Homo sapiens: one gene and its partners. The protein of the gene in region 3 purifies or fractionates together with the protein of the main gene of each other region. This does not show direct contact. Each region holds a gene or a part of one and is shown on either strand. Other genes may lie near its edges.

Region 1 (4,454 bases), on a different chromosome or scaffold from region 3:
AATCAGCTGCTCCTGGCACACAGGGGAGCTAATAGTGGGGCTCACAACCTGAAGTGAGACAGGAACAGGTTTTGGGCACTGTGGTTGAATCCTGGTCCCTCTCCATGTGCCCCCGCAGTCCCATCAAAGCCCTTCCTGCTCTGGGCCTCGGTTTCTTACTTACAGGACCACTGCTCGGTTTCTTACTTACCTGACCATTTCATTCAATGAAACCATTGCTTCAGTCTCACACGCTCTGCTATTCTACTTCATCCTTGTGATTTGACATGTCCCACTAATTTATAACTTCATTAGTCACATGTGACAGTCCATACTACTGCCCTACTTCCATACAGAGAAATTTCTGAGATTTCCCAATTATACCTCCTTCATTTTAGGATCCTTTGAATTGAGTCTTTTGAGTTGGGATACAAAGACTACCTAAAAGAATTCTATTTCTATTCCCAGAAACACCTGAAACTCTGCCTCATAGTCCTTTAAAGAACAGGGGGGTTCTGTCAGTTCCTTGTAAATTCTAGCAGCGTGGACAATGAAAGCTTGAGGGAGACGATGCTGCAAATCTTACCACAGGCTATTGATGCCAAGCTGAGCCAGATCACAGATCTATACAACATGACAGGCCATCAATTCCAGAAACGGACATTTCCCATCTTCTGCTGCATCATCACCGAGAGGACACATGAAGTAGAGGGGAAAGCGTATTTGGAGGCAGATGGACTTGAGTTGTAACTCTAGTTCTGCCACTTACTACTTCTGTGGCCTTAACCTACTGACATCTAAGGGCCTCAGATTCCTCATCAGTAAACTAGAGATAATGGTGCTTAATTTGCAGGATTACCGGGGAGATGTAATGAGGTGATGTATGACACACTGAGTGTGTATACCCTGGCAACAATTAAAATCCCCACTCGGACCCTGTGCAGCCTAGAAAGGGTTCCCATAAACTCTGTGGATTATTTCTGAACCCATTTGTAATGCTGTACCACGCATTGCAAGAACTATTTTTGTGCAGGTGTAAAGATGCACTGAGAAGTCCAAAGGGGAGACACAGCAATTTGCATATAGAAATGAACTAGTGAAAAGTACCAACGGCCTGAGGACTTGGGCAAAGAACAAATGATAAAAGCAGAATTTGACCGCTTATGCTAAAATCCTATCATCACTTAAGACACTTTAAGGAAGCTCTAAATCTCGGACTATTTAAACAAATTCTGCCCCTGCTACACACCAAATGCCTGGAGGCAGGTAACAGCAGGTGATACTGGGTAGAAAGGGCTGGGGTGCCAGCTGGCTTACCTTGGCACATGCCACAAGCTGGGAGGTGGAGAGGGCACACTGGGTGGCAGCAGCAATTACCCTGTTCTGTAGGACAGTGTCTTCGGCCACTTGGGCAACATTCTTTGCCTTTAGTACCAACATGGCAGCTGCATTGGCAACAGCTTTGGCCAAACTCATTAAAACATCCTAAGAAAAGGGAATCAAAGACTATTCATTTATTTTTCTCTAATCACCTTTCACAGCCTGAAAATAAACGTTATTAAAATTCCATTTGATCTTTTTCCTTCAGTACTTTAGAAGTTTTTTTACTTTTTTTTGAAATGTCAACTTATCCTTAGAAGTAATTAAAAAAGGAGACTTGTATCCTAATAACTCAGTCTCTTACATCCATTAAGTAGCATAGGTTTAAATCTAAAATAGTTAATTTGAGGGAAGGGTCATTATTTTAACCACTGATTCCCATTCATGCACTTATCTAACACGAAGTCTTGACCACGTCTCTTGAATGAGTGGCTGATATGGTAGATCAGGAGAAGCTGAAAACATATCCAGATGCCACAACATCATGTGCCATAAGAAGGTTATAATTCATGGCCTCCAGTCATCATGCCCCACTGCAACTTGAAAATGTATCTTTTGGATTTCTACTTTGCACAAAGATCCAAGTCGTCATCAGAAATTTAGCCATATCTCTACCTCCAGAGGGCAACATTTGATGTGCACAGACACATAGCTGGCACCAATACCTATAGCTCAAGAGCCAAGAAATGCTCTGAACATGAGTTATTCTCAGTGTTCTGCAGCCTTCTGGGTAGGAATTAAATTATTACAGAAAGCAGAAAGAGAGCCTATATAAATACACTAGCTATAAGATGGTCTGACTGAAAATGCGAGGAGCTAGTTTATGCTTCAACTCAATGACTAGGCATTCTGCCTGCAGAAAGAAGAATCCTTTGATTGAGCCTACCAGATTTGTCACCCATCTGTCTGACCTGAAGAAGAACCATGGTTACAATTAATTTACTTCTTTGCTTTTAATACTGAAAGTAGTTTATTTGACTTGGAAATGCCTTCCCAAACATATGAGCCATTTTTATTTGGAACAAACACGTCAAGGCTTTTCCCTTCAAGGAAATACGGTCAGAAGTCTTTATTAATTCATCAGATGATAAAGAGCACATTTGATTCTAAATGTAAAGGGCACCCACAGCGTCTTTACAGTGAGATATTTTATGAGAAGATACATTGGAAATAATATTCAGCCTGCACAATTTTACATAGAACAAAGACTAGATACAATCCAGCTAAACCAGAAACCCATGAATCTATCAAGTAAGCTGATTTTAAAATGGACAAAAACTAAGTGGTCTTAAAGGAGCAGGTTATTCCAGTCTTTCTCAGGTCTGTGATGTTTCCTGGCTATCCAAGGTATAATTAAAGCCCATGGTGCTGAAAGCAGAAGATCCCTTTGGGATCTGACTGGCACTTGTCTACCACACAACTTTTAGGAATTGCTCCCACTATGGCAAAGTTACAATTCCTGGACATCTATCTCAATGCTCAGTGAAAACACAGCTTGAATGTCACAAATTATTAAAAAGATTTTTAAAAATAACTTTCCAAAGTAGGTCATAGTATTCCCTCACTTGATATGAATTCATCTTTTCAGATGGGGGGCCAGGATTTGGTCACATAGAATCATGATTGTTCTAAAGGACTTTGTTAGAATTGTTTAAAGAAATCCTGTTCCTCTTATTAATTTTGTCCAAAAAAATACAGTCAGAAAAAGAATGTGATACTACAGCTATAGCTGCTGACAAGGCCTTTGTCAAAATTTTCAACAAGACCACTATTATATAGCCAGTGTAAAATAAATCTTTGTTAACTATGGGAACATGCAGTACATTAAGAAATCAAGAAAAGCTCTGAGATATGATCTCAAGAATCAGAAGAATAGAGTAAGAAATCCAATGTCAGTTACCCATAACTGGAGGAGGTTGCAGGATCACCTTACTGCCCTGGTCTTTACCTAGAGAGCTAAACAATTGAAAACATTCAAGTCTGGCCTGTCCCTGCTAACAAAGGCTCTGTAGGACTGTCACCCTGAACCTGAACCTGCTTCCTTTGCACATCTGAATAGAAACAAACATTAGGAAGCAGGGTTGACATTCACACACAATGAAAATAATCTGCTAAAGCAGGGAGAGGCAGGAAAAGCTTTTAAAAAATACAAGGTTGCATGGGATGTTTAAAGGAAGAATTGTGACTTTCTCCTTAACCTTCCTTGGCACTTTGGAGAAAACAATAATATTAATACTTTTGGGGAACATAAATGACTACGTCAAGATAATTAAGCCCAGTAAAACAGCAGCTGAATCTCATATTTACCAAGTTCCTAAATAGGTACCTGCCTACAAATAATTACCTGCCCTAATATAAAAAGTAAAGGCCAATGCAAGGGCAGTTTGGGGATATGGAAAGGCAAATTAGAATGGGGACACAATTAACTTGGGTTTAGCAGAATATATTGATGTGCAGTTCATTTTGATTCTAGGGAACTTATGACCAGCCATCTCAGTGTAGAAATGGCTTCCAGGAATATTCCTACCACCCATCATATGAATTCAACCTCTATCATGACACGAATGTCTGTACATTGAATGTCTTATTGCACTGCAGGATATGAATGAGTCCCATAGCCCAGTGCCACAGGCATGTGGAGAGTGAAGGAGAAACAAACACATCTATGGATGAAGGTTGAAGTTTCATGTCTCACAACATACATGATCCCATCTTCGTTTAACTAACACATCTTATGCTTATAAAATTTGGAAGTTCTAGATAAAATGGCATGCAAAATTGCCACCCATGAAGCAAGAAACCTGAATGCCAGAGGATCTTTTTGTTCCGTCTATAAAATATTATAAAATCATTGCCAAATGAAGAGGTGGTCAAAACAGATGAAGTCAAAAATGCAGGAAAAAAGGTATTTAGAAGTGTCAGGTAGTTAATAAAAACATTACGTTATTTTTCTAGATTTGGTGATATTTGTGGTGTTAGTTCATATAAGTTCGTAATTTTTTGTGATTTCTTCTAAGTAAATATTTCATTATATATATAAATAAATAATTCAAAAAACATTTTAATAAGTGAAGGCCAATGAAATTCTGTAGAAT
Region 2 (4,197 bases), on a different chromosome or scaffold from region 3:
GTCTAAGGTGTAATATAGATTTTTGAGGTGACAAAGAACCCAAATCAAGAGTACATTCCTTGTCTTTGGACAACTGTATTGAACAGATAAATGTTTGGGGTATCCCCAACTCAAAAAAGTATTCCTGGCCTTGTGTAGTCAAAGTATTATTTTTGTGGAGATGCCAGAAGCTCCAAGTTGTGAAAAGCGTCTGAACAAATGGGAATTCAGGATGCCCTCCAACTGGAGCAAGAGATAGCAACTGTATCTTCCTTACTGGAAAAAAGAATTCCTTACAATTAAAACTTCTTTAGAAAAATATAAATGAAATATAAATTTTCTACATTTAATCTTGAATATTCCAAATTCATAAATACCGAACTTAAAATGTTAGTATATCTAAAATGTACGTTTTTAGTGCACATTCATAAGGTAAATTACTTTTAAAGCTGTTAAAATATGTAGCCAGCAACATGTCAGGAATACAACACAATCACAATAAACACAATAAAGCTTCAGACTTTCAGAAAACTTGTTTAATAACTTTTACATTTAGGAACAAATACTATGCCACACATACACCATCTTAACATCTTAAGAACAATATTCTTCCATCAGGTAATTGTCTAGTGGGGGAAGAGACACACGTAACTTATAGCCCAAGGTGGCAGTTGATGTCAGAAGATCTAGCAAGTGCATTTTGGAGCAAGTCTTGAAGGAGTGTAGGAGTTCGCCAGGTAAGAGATAAGGCAGACCATGCAAATGTGGGACAAATGTGGGAAAGCCCCATTGTCAAGTAGTATGACATGTTTGAGGGCAAGTGAGGAATTAGATGAGGGCAAATTCTTACTTTTTTTCCTTCAAGCACCAGGTTAACAGGCAACCTGGGTGGACTGACTGTACCATACTCTTTGCTCTCTTGCTAAAGAAAGTTTATTAGAACTTGAGTATGAATCGTATTGAACAGAGAGCTGCTCTCATTCATAAGGAAGGAACAATCATTCCCATAGTTGGGTACTTCTTTATTAGTAATAATACCTGCCACATTTTTCATAATGATCAAGACACAAAACCTTGCAATTATTCTGAAAGGTAGGTAATATTCAATTACAGTGGTAGGAGTGGATGGCTTAAGTGAATGGGGATTTGGTTTCCTTATAAATATTAATAGCCCTCCATCACAAGCAAACTGTATATTCTGAGAAAAGTCATAGGTTTGCTAAGCAAATATGCAGTTTTAAGTCACATTGTTCCCTTCTAATCAGGTTGCTCACCCCAAGCCTTCCTAGATGGACATTCGGGAGCTGCTCTAGTTTACAGAGAGGTGAAAGGCAGAGAGGTGAGGTGAGTTGCACAAAAGTGGTAGGCTCAGAGGTGGTTTAACTCCTGAGCCTATGGTCCAAACCACTCTTTTCTACATGAAGGGATGTGATGGTTTATTTAATGTGTTGACTGGGCCACAGGGTGCCCAGATATGTGGTCAAACATTATTCTGGGCATATCTATGAGGGTGTTTTTGGATGAGATTAACATTTAAGTCAGTAGACTGAGTAAGGCAGATTGCCCTCTCTAATGTTGGTGGCTCTCATGAATTGAAGGCCTGAATAGAACAAAAAAGGCTCAAGTAAGGATAATTTCTCTTGCCTGATTGAACTGGGACATCAGTCTTTTCCTGCCTTTGCACTAAAACTGAAACATTCAGTCTTCCTGGGTCTTTAGCCAGGTAGCTTGTGGACTGGAACTTTTATCATTGGTTTTCCTGGTTCTCAACCCTTTGGACTCGGACTTGAACTACACCATTGGCATTCCTGGGTCTCCAGCCTGCTGACTGAAGATCATGAGACTTCTCAGCCTAAGTGCATGAACTAATTCCTTATAAATCTTTCTCTCCCTCATATATATATATATATATGTACATATATGATATATATGTATATACATGATATGTGTATATATGAGGGAGAGAGCTATACATATATGTGTATACACATATGCATCCTATTGGTCTTGTTTCTCTGGAGAATCCTGATTAATACAAGGAATTAGAAGAGAACTTTAAGACAGAAACAGGATCTCATTTTTTTTTTTTTTAAATGAAACCATGAAGATCATTCTGGTAGCAGGATAATGGACTGAAGTAGGAAGGGACTGCCAGCCAGATGTAATCCTATTGAGTGCACCCTGAATACACACTTCTATTTTTAAAAATGGGATGCTACATTATAGGCTGCCAAAGACATGTAGTTATTTAGTACTGGTTAAATGAAAATACATGGCCAGGTGCTGTGGTTCATGCCTGTAATCCCAGCACTTTGGGAGGCCGAGGTGGATGGATCGCCTGAGTTCAAGACTTCAAAACCAGCCTGGGTAACATGGTGAAACCTGGTCTCTACAAAAATTAGCCAGGTGTGGTGTGGTGGCACATGCCTGTAGACCCAGCTACTTCGGAGGCTGAGGTGGGAGGACCACTTGAGCCCAGAGGCTGGAGGCTGCAGTGAGATGAGATTGTGCCACTGCACTCCAGCCTGGGTGACAGAGAAAGACCTTGTCTCAAAACAAAACAAAACAAAAACCAGGCATACCTTGTTTTATTCTGCTTCACTTTATTATCATGCTTTGAAGATAATTGTTTTTGTTTTTTTACAAACAAGGCTTGTGGCAAGCCTACATTGAGCACATCTATAGGTGTTATTTTCCTAACAGAATGTGCTTACTGTGTGTGTGTCATATCTTGGTACTTCTCACATTTCAAATGTCTTCATTATTATTGTATCTGTTACGGTGATCTGTGATCAGTAATCTTTGATGTTACTGTTTTGTTTGAGGGCACAGACGTGTGTGTTCCAACTGCTCCACTGGCCATTCCCCATCTCTCTCCCTCTCCATGTGCCTCCCTATTCCCTGAGACATAACACTATTAAAACCAGGCCAGTTAATAACCATCCAATGGCCTCTAAATGTTCAGGTGAAGAGCTGTACATCTCTCTCTCTCTCTCAATCAAATGCTATAAATGATTGGAGCTTAGTGAGGAAAGCATGTTGAAAGCCAAGGCAAGCTGAAAGCTAGGCCTCTTGAGCCAAACAGCCAAGTTGTATATCCAAAGGAAGAGTTCCTGAAATTAAAAGTGCTACTCAAGTGAACACATGAATCATAAGAAAAGTGGTATAGAGAAAGCCTGAGTTTTTTTTTTTTTAATAGATCAAATCAGCCACAACACTATCTTAAGCCAAAGCCTAACGCAGAGCAAGGCCCTCTCTCTTCAATTCTATGGAGGCTAAGGTAAGGAAGCTGCAGAAGAAAAGTCTGAAGCTAGCAGTGGTTGATTCATGGAGTTTAAGGAAACAAGCTGTCTCCACAACAGACAAGCATAAGGTGAAGCAGCAACTGCTAAAGTAGAAACTACAGCAAGTTATCCAGAAGATCTAGCTAAGATCATTGATGAAGGTAGTTACACTAAAAACAAACTTTCAATGTAGATGAAAGTCTTATGTTGGAAGATGTCATCCAGGACTTTCATAGCTAGAGAAAAGTTGATGCTTGGCTTCAAACGAGAGACTGATTTCTTGTTAGGGGCCAATGCAATGCTAACTAATGTTCATTTATCATTCCAAAAATCCTAGGGTCCTTAAAATTAAACTAAATATAATGTTTTTGCTCTATAAAAGGAACCATAAAGCCTGGATGGTAGCACATCCGTTTATAGGAAGGTTTACTAAATATTTTAAGCCCACTGCGGAGATCTATTGCTCAGAAAAAGATTCCTTTCAAAATATTACTGCTCATTGACAAGTGCACCTGGTCACCCAAGAGCTCTATGGAGATGTATGAGATTAGTGTTTTTCTGCCTGCTAACACAACATCCATTCTGCAGCCATAGATCAAAGAATAACTTCAGCTTTCAAGTCTTATCATCCAAGAAATACATTTTATAAGGCAAAAGCTTTCATAGATAGTGATTCCTCTGATGGATCTGGGCAAAATAAAAACCTTCTGAAAAGGATTTGCTATTCTGGATGCCATTCATTCAGAATATTTGTGATTCATGGGAGTCAAAATATCAACATTAACAAGAGTTTGAAAGAAGTTAATTACAACTTTCATGACTTTGAGAAGTTCAAAACCTCAGTGGCGGCAGTAACTGCAGATGCGGTGAAAATAGCAAGAGAACTACAAGTGGAGCCTGAAGATGTGTCTGGATTGCTGCAATCTTATGATAA
Region 3 (5,409 bases):
TCACAATAGCAAAGACATGGAATCAATGCAAATGCCTATCAATGATAGACTGGATAAAGAAAATGCGGTACATATACACCATGGAATGCTATGCAGCCAAAACAAGAAATAAGATTATGTCCCTCGCAGGGACATGGATGGAGCTGGAGGCCATTTTACCATTTTACTTAACAAACTAACACAGGAAAAGAAAACCAAATAACACATGTTCTCACTTACAAGTGGGAGCCAAATGATGAGAACACAATGACACATGTAGGGGAACAACACACACTGGGGCCTGTTGGAGGGCAGAGGATGGGAGGAGAGGAAGGATCACGAAGAACAGCTAATAGATGCTGGGCTTAATACCTGGGTAATGGGAGGATCTGTGCAGCAAACTACCATGGCAGACGTTTTACCTATGTAACAAACCTGCACATCCTGCACATTTACCCCTGCACTTGAAATAAAAGTTGGAAATAAAAAAACAGAACCCTGCTATAGCCTTATATCAATACTCCACTACAACCACCACCACAAAAACTCACTTGTTTCTAAAAAAAATTGCATAGCTACATAGTCTATGGAAAACATAGCCAGTAGAGGCAGAAAAGAAAGTATACTCACCATACTAATGAAGGCTGGATTATTTATCAAGCTAGCCATGTCAAAGCTCAGTCCAGTTCCTGTCTGTAAAACAATTATATCTGAGAATCAGTCCAGTATCTACAATTACAATAAATTGTGAATGACAGAAAATACTTCACTCATTTGGCATTAACAACTTACAGGACTGGATACCTCTCTTAACTTCTGTTCTGCTATTTTCAGATTTGACTTATAGGAATCATTTTCAGGGTCAAGATCTAATGCCTTTTGATAACTTGTAACTGCTTCTTCAAATTTATTCAAGGCAGTGAGGGCCAGCCTGAAGGGAATAGAATATAAGAATATCAGATATATGATTAAAGAACATCAGGACATCACAAACATCGTCAAACGTCTGTCTGTCTTGGTATTCAGTTCTAATCCAGATTACACTTAATTTATTCACTGTACTATGGCTCACGGGAGCAAAATTCCCTCCAACTTAAGATTCTATATATCTGAACTCACTCCATTCTGCTTGCTGATAACCTGGTTGTCCTATAGATCATGAATTTAATGCTTAGAGATTATCTTACTTACTCTACCATTTTTAAGCTTAATATGTAAAATAATTTGCTTTATAAATGCCTAGACTAAGTTCCAAAAGATGTGAGTTGACAATCATGTGGTCACATAAATCCATGATGCTAACACCATTTTTAAGGACTCTAAACTGTATTTGTGCTTCAAAATGGCCTACATGCTTTCTTCTTCCTAACAGAGGAACAATTAATATCAATTTTCCATTAAGAAAACAGGCTGTAGTTATTAGATAACTATTCCTGATCAAAAGAGGTAGATAAAATTAGCATCCTTTACAATTCAAATAACAAATTATACCAGGCACAAGTCAAAGAGGTATTAAATTTTAATGTTCATATTTACCTAGTTATAATTTACTTATTGAAAAATTATTATAGAACTAAACAATAACTGTATATATGGTGACATAGTATTAGGGGTTTCTGTTTGTTTTAGGTTTGTTTTAAACAAATTACTGTTTTCTTTTCTCTTTTTCTCTTTATCGGAACCTAATTCATTTTCTACCAGTCAACCATGTATGATACTTTATCAGAGTCCCCAGTTAATCAAGAGTCAAGTCAGTAACTATTTACTGAAACTCTATGATGTATAAGAATATTATTAAAATAATATCTAAAGATACTGAGGATCCTGGCTGGGCGCAGTGGCCCACGTCTCTAATCCCAGCAGCACTTTGGGAGGCCAGGGTGGGTGGATCACTTGAGGTCAGGAGTCTGAGACCAGTCTGGCCAACATGGTGAAGCCCTGTCTCTACTAAAAATACAAAAATTAGCCAAGCATGGTGGCAGACGCCTGTAATCCCAGCTACTAGGAAGGCTGAGGCATGAGAATTGCTTGAATCCAGGAGGCGGAGGTTGCAGTGGGCCGAGATTGTGCCATTGCACTCCAGCCTGGAAAACAAGAGCGAAATTCCATCTCAAAAAAAAAAAAAGATAAAGTTTTCTGTCTTTAAGAAAATTTCATTCTACCTGGGGAAGACAGGCAACAAGCATGCAAATAAAAAGGGCAATATTAAAGGAATGAATAGGAGAGCTGCTCAAAAAGTAGCCACATTGGAAAGATCTGAGTGATGTAAAGAAAGCAGTCATGAAAATGAGGGAGGAGCATTGTAGTGGAAATAGCAGTAAACAGAAAGGTCCCAAGAAAGATGCAAGCTTGGTATTCTTAAGGAACAGGACAAGGGCTGATGAGGAGGGAACACAGAAAACAAAGCATGGAGAGATGATGTCAGAGAACAGTTGGGTGCCAGATGATAGAGGACCATTGCTTGGAGTTTGAACTTTATTCTGGTTGCAATGGAGTCACATGATACAATTTGTGCTTTTGAAAGCTCACTCTGGCTTCTACGTAGAGGATCTACATGGGCAGAAGGGTAGAATGGAGGCAGGGAGATCGGTTAGGAAGCTATTGCAGTAGCTTAGGTAAGAGATGTAGTTTGGACTGGGGCTATATGTAAGATAGCGATCAACACTTGGATTCAAGATATATACAGAAACTAGAATTGACAGGACTTGATGACAGAGTATCAGTACTTATGTCAGGCGTAATAACAATGAAGGATGACTCTTAGGCTTCTGACCTGTGCATGGGATAGATAACTAATTGTACAATGTATTGAGATTGGAAAGATTTTGGAAGGGAACATGAGTTCTGTCTGGGACATGTTAAGTTTAAATACCTATTAAACATCCAAACATAGAGTTGAAGAGTAGTAGAATATATGAGTACGGAGTTCAAACATATAAATTAGATCCGATAATATATATAGTTGATTCTTATTCACAGTAGTCCTGTTCTATAAAGTCACCATGAACAATGAATTAGCAAATACTGAACAATTGTTCCTAGGGAAAATACAGAGTTAGGTTCCTGCAACTGTTGTAAATAGTCATATTTTCATCAACTGATCAATATATAATCTTGTTTTTATGTGTGTTTCTGATTAAAGAAACTTTATTTAATATATATATTTTATTCATTAGCATTGAACTCATAGCCAACGGCACTAACTCATGCCTGAATGAAGCTTGTCTCATAAATATATTTTCTCCATAAGGCACATTACAGTCCTCTTGCACTTAGGAATACTAGATAACACTTCAGCCTATAGTTGGGGGCCACTGTAAACAGCAAAATCACAAATAAAAGGCACAAAAATACAAAAAAAAATGTAGCACTAAATAGACTGTTTCAGCATGAGAGCTGAAACAAAAAGATAGAGCATCACCTTATTCACCCTCAGTTGAGATCGAGAGCATCAGAAGACACATTTTCACTAATTGTGCATGTACATGAATGACCACAGAAGCAGTGTAAATATTGATTTGGGGATTACAAATTAATTTAGCAAGTAGGCAAATTCATAAATACAGAATCTGCAAATAATGAGTATCAACTGTAGATGAATTTTAAAAGCATGGAGCAGGATAAACTGAGCAGAGAGAAGACAAAGAAACAGCAGCAGCAGAGGATGCAACCCTAAAATACAGCATTGTTTAGAGATGGTAGAGAGGAAGAACAAGCAAGGGAGACTGGAAAAGAGCATCCAGTAAAGTGGAAGGGGAAACAGGGCAAGTGTAGTGTCAGGATCCTAGAGAGTGATGTATTTTGACAATAAGTTAATAGTGGCCTGTAATCCCAGCACTTTGGGAGGCCGAGGTGGGTGGATCGTGAGGTCAGGAGATCGAGACCATCCTGGCTAACGCAGTGAAACCCCGTCTCTACTAAAAATACAAAAAATTAGCTGGGCATGGTGGCGGGTGCCTGTAGTCCCAGCTACTCGGGAGGCTGAGACAGGAGAATGGCGTGAACCCAGGAGGCAAAGCTTGCAGTAAGCTGAGATCGCGCCACTGCACTGCAGCCTGGGTGACAGAGCGAGACTCTGTCTCAAAAAAAAAAAAAGAAAAAAAGAGATGACAAAGATGAAACAGCAAGTACAGATAACCATCAGGGGCAGAGAACGAGGAACTGAGAAGTGGGATGGTGGCTAGAGGGGAACGCTGGGTAAAGGGATGGGTCCAACTAATGATTTTTTTTCTTTTTTTTGAGACAGGGTCTCACTCTGTCACTCAGGCTGGAGTGCAGTGACACGATCACGGCTCACCACAGCCTCGACTTCCCAGACTCAAGCAATCTTCTCACCTCAGCCTCCCAAGTAGCTGGGACTACAGGTGTACCCCACCACTCCTGGATAATTTTTGTATTTTTATAGAGATGGGGTCTTGCTATGTTGCCCAGGCTGGTCTTGAACTCCTGGGCTCAAGCATTTCTCCCACCTTGGCCTCCCAAAATGCTGGGATTACAGGTGTTAGCCACTGCACCTGGCTCAGTGAATGACTTTTTATGACCTGATCACATGCCAACCATTATCATCTATTAGAGATGGAAGATCTAATGTTGTAGAAAATGAAGGGGATTGTAATAGTTGCAAAGTTGTGGAGAAGGTACAAGGGAATGGGATCTTAAAGCATGAGTGGAGGCAATGGTCTTAGGTAAGAATGCTTCTTTTTTTTTGAGACAGAGTCTCAATCTGTCACCCAGACTGGAGTGCAGTGGCTCTATCTCAGCTCACTGCAACCTCTGCCGCCCAGGTTCAAGTGATTCTCCTGCCTTAGCCTCCTGAGTAGCTGGGTCTGCGGGTGCTCATCACCATGCCTGGCTAATTTTTGTATTTTTAGTAGAGACGGGGTTTCACCATGTTGGGCAGGCTGGTCTTAAACTCCTGACCTCAAGTGATCTGCCCACCTTGGCCTTCCAAAGTGCTGGGATTACAGGCGTGAGTCACCACGCCCAGCCAGAATGCTTCCATTTTAACAAGAAAAAAGGGCATTCTGTGTAGATACAAATGTAGGCAGACTGATGGATTTGCAAGGAGGAAAATGAGTTGTTTTCCTTCAAAAAGCATCTAGCTTCTCAATTAAGTGTAAGGCAATAGCATCAGTTGAGAGTCACCAGAGAGGGGGTAGTGGAAATTTGAAGGGAGAGGAAGAGGTATGAAATCGTCACATCAGCGAGTGGAAAGGTGACTATAGAAGGAAAAATAATAGAACTGTCTGCCTAACTGTCTGCAATATTGAGTGCTCATCTGAGATTTGTGGTACGGTTATATAATTTTCTCCAACAATCAAATCAGTCATCAATCATCTCACTTCCTAGTCAAAGAAATTGTAGTCATTTCCTCCCTTATGTTTTATTTATCCTCTTATTAGTTCAGAGGGTAAAACATTAAGCAGGAAA
Region 4 (4,454 bases), on a different chromosome or scaffold from region 3:
CCTCCCCTAGCTTCCCCCCCTTCCTCCAGGGCCTTGGCTTCTGGCTAGTCAGGGGCACTATGTGGGGACAGTTATGTGGCCCCGGGCAGAGAGAGGTCCCGCCGTCTGTTTGCTGAAGGAGGAAAAACAACACTCGGACTATTGATTCAGTCTCACCTTGGCGCTCCTGGCTCAGCAGCCAGTGTTTGCCCTGGCTGCCTGGGCTCGGATTACGCAAGGCTGGTGGGCGTGGAGCAAGCAAGGGGGCAGCTGGGGGCCTCCAGGCCCAGGCAGGGCAGGGCTTGGCGGCCCCAGCGTTCCCCAGGAAACTGTAAAAACGAGTCTGGGGCCCTGACTTTGCTGATAGCGGCCATCTCAGCCATAGAGGGAGGTGAAGCCTCTGTGATCTCCACCCCCGCACCCCCTCAGGACATGGCCCCTAAAAGCACCATCCCATTTAGGGTCACCCATTTTCTTCCTAGGAGCTGTGGGGCTTTGCGAATAACTCCCTATGGCTGAATCTGCTTTGCTGAACTAGGAAACCCTAGTGAGTTGTATAGATGCCATTCATTTAAGAACCTTGAAAAGCCAACATCTTATTCCCATGTAAAACATACCTAGGTGATTTGGAGAATACAGTGACACAAAGAAGAAAATAACAATTACTTGTAATTCTCACCATCTTGAGAGAACCACCGTTAACATTTTTTAGCGTGTGTATCCTTCCAGATTTCGCTTTAGTTTGTATAAATATACATGTATAAATAGTTTTTAAAAAATAAAATGGGATTATGTGTACATACTGCTTTATAATGCATCTTCTTTACCTTGATCATGGTGAACATTTATTCATTTGTTGTTTCTGATTTTGAGTGACTCAGGGCTTGATAGTCTTCATCCTGCTTCTTCTGTTACACTTTTTTTTTTTTTTTTTTTTTTGAGAGGGAGTATCGTTCTGTCGCACAGACTGGGAATGCAGTGGCGCGATCTTGGCTCACTGCAACCTCCACCTCCTGGGCTCAAGCAATTCTTGTGCCTCAGCCTCCCAAGTCGCTGGCACTACAAGCACCCGCCACCACACTTGGCTCATGTTTGTATTTTTAGTAGAGACGAGGTTGCACCATGTTGGCCAGGCTGGCCTCGAACTCCTGACCTCAGGTGATCCACCCGCCTCAGCCTCCCAAAGTGCTGGATGACAGAAGTGAGCCACCATGCCTGGCCCTTCTGTTACATTTCTTATATTCTTGCATGGAGAAAGGATTGGGGGGGATTGTGAGGGCATCCATCTGTCCATCTATGTGGCTGGCCTTGGGGGCTAGATTTCTTCTGGGGAGGACTAATTTTTTTACCCTTCTCCCCCAGATCTCATTTCAGGCCCCAATTGAAACTTGGGGTGGGCAGGGCAGCTTTAGTGCGTAGCAGGGGAGGAACTGACCCTCTCTCCCCTTTTCCCCTCTTGTTCCTCTCAGGGTCGGCACTCTTCACCCTCCCGAGCCCTGCCCGTCTCGGCCCCATGCCCCCACCAGTCAGCCCCGGGCCACAGGCAGTGAGCAGGCACCTGGGAGCCGAGGCCCTGTGACCAGGCCAAGGAGACGGGCGCTCCAGGGTCCCAGCCACCTGTCCCCCCCATGGAGCTGAGGCCCTGGTTGCTATGGGTGGTAGCAGCAACAGGAACCTTGGTCCTGCTAGCAGCTGATGCTCAGGGCCAGAAGGTCTTCACCAACACGTGGGCTGTGCGCATCCCTGGAGGCCCAGCGGTGGCCAACAGTGTGGCACGGAAGCATGGGTTCCTCAACCTGGGCCAGGTAGGTGTTCCCCCACAGGACACTGCCAGGGGGTGGGACCAGAGAAGACAGGGATTCTGGGAGCAGGAGCTGTTGGCCTTGTTTGCTCAGGGGCATCTGGGTAGCCGGCATGTTCTGGGTGGCCATGAGCAAAGCACAGGTGGTTCAGGCAAGCAGCATATCCCAGTGAGAGTGAGTCCTCATGGTCCCCGCATTTTGCTGGGTCCCGGACAGGGAGCAGATGCCCCGCACCCCCGACCGTGGCGAGCCTCCCATGAAGCCGTTGTCCACCCCCGTCCCCCGCCTCCCGGGGACTGACAGATGGAAAGCCCAGCTCAGTCTCCCTGCTCTATTGCAGATCTTCGGGGACTATTACCACTTCTGGCATCGAGGAGTGACGAAGCGGTCCCTGTCGCCTCACCGCCCGCGGCACAGCCGGCTGCAGAGGGAGCCTCAAGTGAGTGTGGCCCCAGCCCCCTCCTGCTGCCACCCTCCCCCTCCTGCTCTCAGGAGCCCCTCTCGCCTCCTGCTCCACCCACACCATCTCTCCCTCACTCCCCCACAGGTACAGTGGCTGGAACAGCAGGTGGCAAAGCGACGGACTAAACGGGACGTGTACCAGGAGCCCACAGACCCCAAGTTTCCTCAGCAGTGGTACCTGGTACGTGGCCTTCTTCGCTGCTGGGACCTCCTCCCCAGATGCACCATCCACCCACTATGAGCTCTTGGATGGAGGAGGCTGTCTTCGAGGCCTCCTCTGATTCGTTTCCTTTCCTCCTGCTGGGCAGTCTCTCCTTGGCCCATCCTAATAAGCAAGCCTGGGGGTGGCCCTCCCAGAGTCCTCTACATTCCCATGGAGTCCAGACAGCCAGTGGCGGCCTTTCAGGAGCAGGGATGGTACAGGAGGAGGTTTTACGGGGGCAAAGGGATTCTTCAAGATGCTCCTAGCCTCACAAAACCAATCATGTCTCATAAGTGATGGGGTGGGTGTCTCCACAGTCTGGTGTCACTCAGCGGGACCTGAATGTGAAGGCGGCCTGGGCGCAGGGCTACACAGGGCACGGCATTGTGGTCTCCATTCTGGACGATGGCATCGAGAAGAACCACCCGGACTTGGCAGGCAATTATGTGAGGAAGTCGGGGAGGGAGGCCGTGATCCCTGCTGAGGTGTGTCTAGAGGCTGTCTTGTTCTATCAGTGAGGTCAGCCTTCTCCTGATGGTGGCCAAATCCTTCTTAGGATCCTGGGGCCAGTTTTGATGTCAATGACCAGGACCCTGACCCCCAGCCTCGGTACACACAGATGAATGACAACAGGTAAGAAGTGGCAGGCCCCGGTCTCTGCCTCCCTTCTCCTTTCTTCCACTAAGGAACAGGGCTGAGCCTGGGTGAGATGTGCCTTGCCTAAAAGGCTGAGGCTTTTCCCACAGTCCTGGCCCACCTGGGGCTCTGAGGGAGGGCTCGGTCAGAGTGGAGATGGCCACAGGCCCAGTGGAGTGTGGGAGATGGGGGCTGGGTACTCAGGGGATGATGGGTGTCGGATGTGCGGATCCCTCGTGCTCCTCAGGCCACATCTGCCGGGCCCTGTTCACCCCATTTGTTCTACTCATGCTACGTGCTTGGCCCTGGCAGGCACGGCACACGGTGTGCGGGGGAAGTGGCTGCGGTGGCCAACAACGGTGTCTGTGGTGTAGGTGTGGCCTACAACGCCCGCATTGGAGGTGAGTGTGGGCCTGGGCCACCCTGTCTTCAGGAGGGCCCTTCAGTGGAATTTTTCCCGCCCACTTCCCATCTGGCCAATGCCTGCCACTTTCCCACTGTGGATCCTTTGATCACGTGGCTGTTCCATGGAGGGTTCCCAAAGGGTCAAAGACTGAAAGAGCTGGACCCCTGTGGAGTGAGGGTTTCCTAGCAGGAGTCTCCTGAAATCCTCACGACCCACTGTGAGTCCTCACGTGGCAGATCCTTGATCACCAGGCTCTTTTGGGAACCAGAGACTCTTTCTAGTCCTGAATGTGTGGTTGGGGGCAGGAGGTGTTCTCTTTTTCCTTCTCTGGGTCTTGTCTTTGAAAGGCAGAGGCAAACAGGTAGTTGGGGGTTCAGGGTTTCTCAGCATCAGCCTCCACCCTTCCCTTACTCATCCCCTGGGGTGCAGGGCTGGGTGTGCTCCTTGGGGTGGGGGCCCTGACAGCTGGACCCATGCAGCATCCCTCTTCGTGCCCCCCCTTCACGGCCAGGGGTGCGCATGCTGGATGGCGAGGTGACAGATGCAGTGGAGGCACGCTCGCTGGGCCTGAACCCCAACCACATCCACATCTACAGTGCCAGCTGGGGCCCCGAGGATGACGGCAAGACAGTGGATGGGCCAGCCCGCCTCGCCGAGGAGGCCTTCTTCCGTGGGGTTAGCCAGGTGAGGTGGGGATCTGTCCAGCCCCTGCGGGCAGGTTGGGTGCTGTCTTCCGTACCTATCTTGTGTTTTTTGGTTTGTTTTATTTATTCTCATGTTTAACTTTACACAAAGCATGTTTATTGAAACATTAAGGGACAGAAGAAGAGTAGAGTGCATATACCACTTGGACTTGCCTAATTAAAAAACACATTTTTTTTAGAAATGAGGTCTTGCTGTGTTACCCAGGCTGGTCTCAAACTCCTGGCCTCAAGCGATCCTCCCGCCTTGGCCTCTTGGTCTGATT

What was found. The genes of interacting proteins can lie anywhere in the genome.
Region 1: the proteins of SGTB (region 3) and TLN2 purify together in Homo sapiens (affinity purification with mass spectrometry; one large-scale study listed by BioGRID and IntAct). This does not show direct contact.
Region 2: the proteins of SGTB (region 3) and USP15 purify together in Homo sapiens (affinity purification with mass spectrometry; one large-scale study listed by BioGRID and IntAct). This does not show direct contact.
Region 4: the proteins of SGTB (region 3) and FURIN purify together in Homo sapiens (affinity purification with mass spectrometry; one large-scale study listed by BioGRID and IntAct). This does not show direct contact.

What each region holds. Positions count from the first base shown.
Region 1 is NC_000015.10:62,704,096-62,708,549, reverse strand, and holds part of TLN2 (talin-2), read right to left. Parts: intron 1,465-4,454; coding exon 1,297-1,464; intron 49-1,296; coding exon 1-48. UniProt on the Homo sapiens protein: As a major component of focal adhesion plaques that links integrin to the actin cytoskeleton, may play an important role in cell adhesion. Recruits PIP5K1C to focal adhesion plaques and strongly activates its kinase activity.
Region 2 is NC_000012.12:62,412,693-62,416,889, reverse strand, and holds the end of USP15 (ubiquitin carboxyl-terminal hydrolase 15), read right to left. Parts: 3' UTR 501-4,197; downstream 1-500. UniProt on the Homo sapiens protein: Hydrolase that removes conjugated ubiquitin from target proteins and regulates various pathways such as the TGF-beta receptor signaling, NF-kappa-B and RNF41/NRDP1-PRKN pathways.
Region 3 is NC_000005.10:65,679,885-65,685,293, forward strand, and holds part of SGTB (small glutamine-rich tetratricopeptide repeat-containing protein beta), read right to left. Parts: intron 911-5,409; coding exon 772-910; intron 673-771; coding exon 610-672; intron 1-609. UniProt on the Homo sapiens protein: Co-chaperone that binds directly to HSC70 and HSP70 and regulates their ATPase activity.
Region 4 is NC_000015.10:90,874,134-90,878,587, forward strand, and holds part of FURIN (furin isoform 1 preproprotein), read left to right. Parts: intron 1-1,448; 5' UTR 1,449-1,607; coding exon 1,608-1,784; intron 1,785-2,121; coding exon 2,122-2,220; intron 2,221-2,328; coding exon 2,329-2,424; intron 2,425-2,762; coding exon 2,763-2,891; intron 2,892-3,001; coding exon 3,002-3,078; intron 3,079-3,393; coding exon 3,394-3,482; intron 3,483-3,998; coding exon 3,999-4,171; intron 4,172-4,454. UniProt on the Homo sapiens protein: Ubiquitous endoprotease within constitutive secretory pathways capable of cleavage at the RX(K/R)R consensus motif. Mediates processing of TGFB1, an essential step in TGF-beta-1 activation.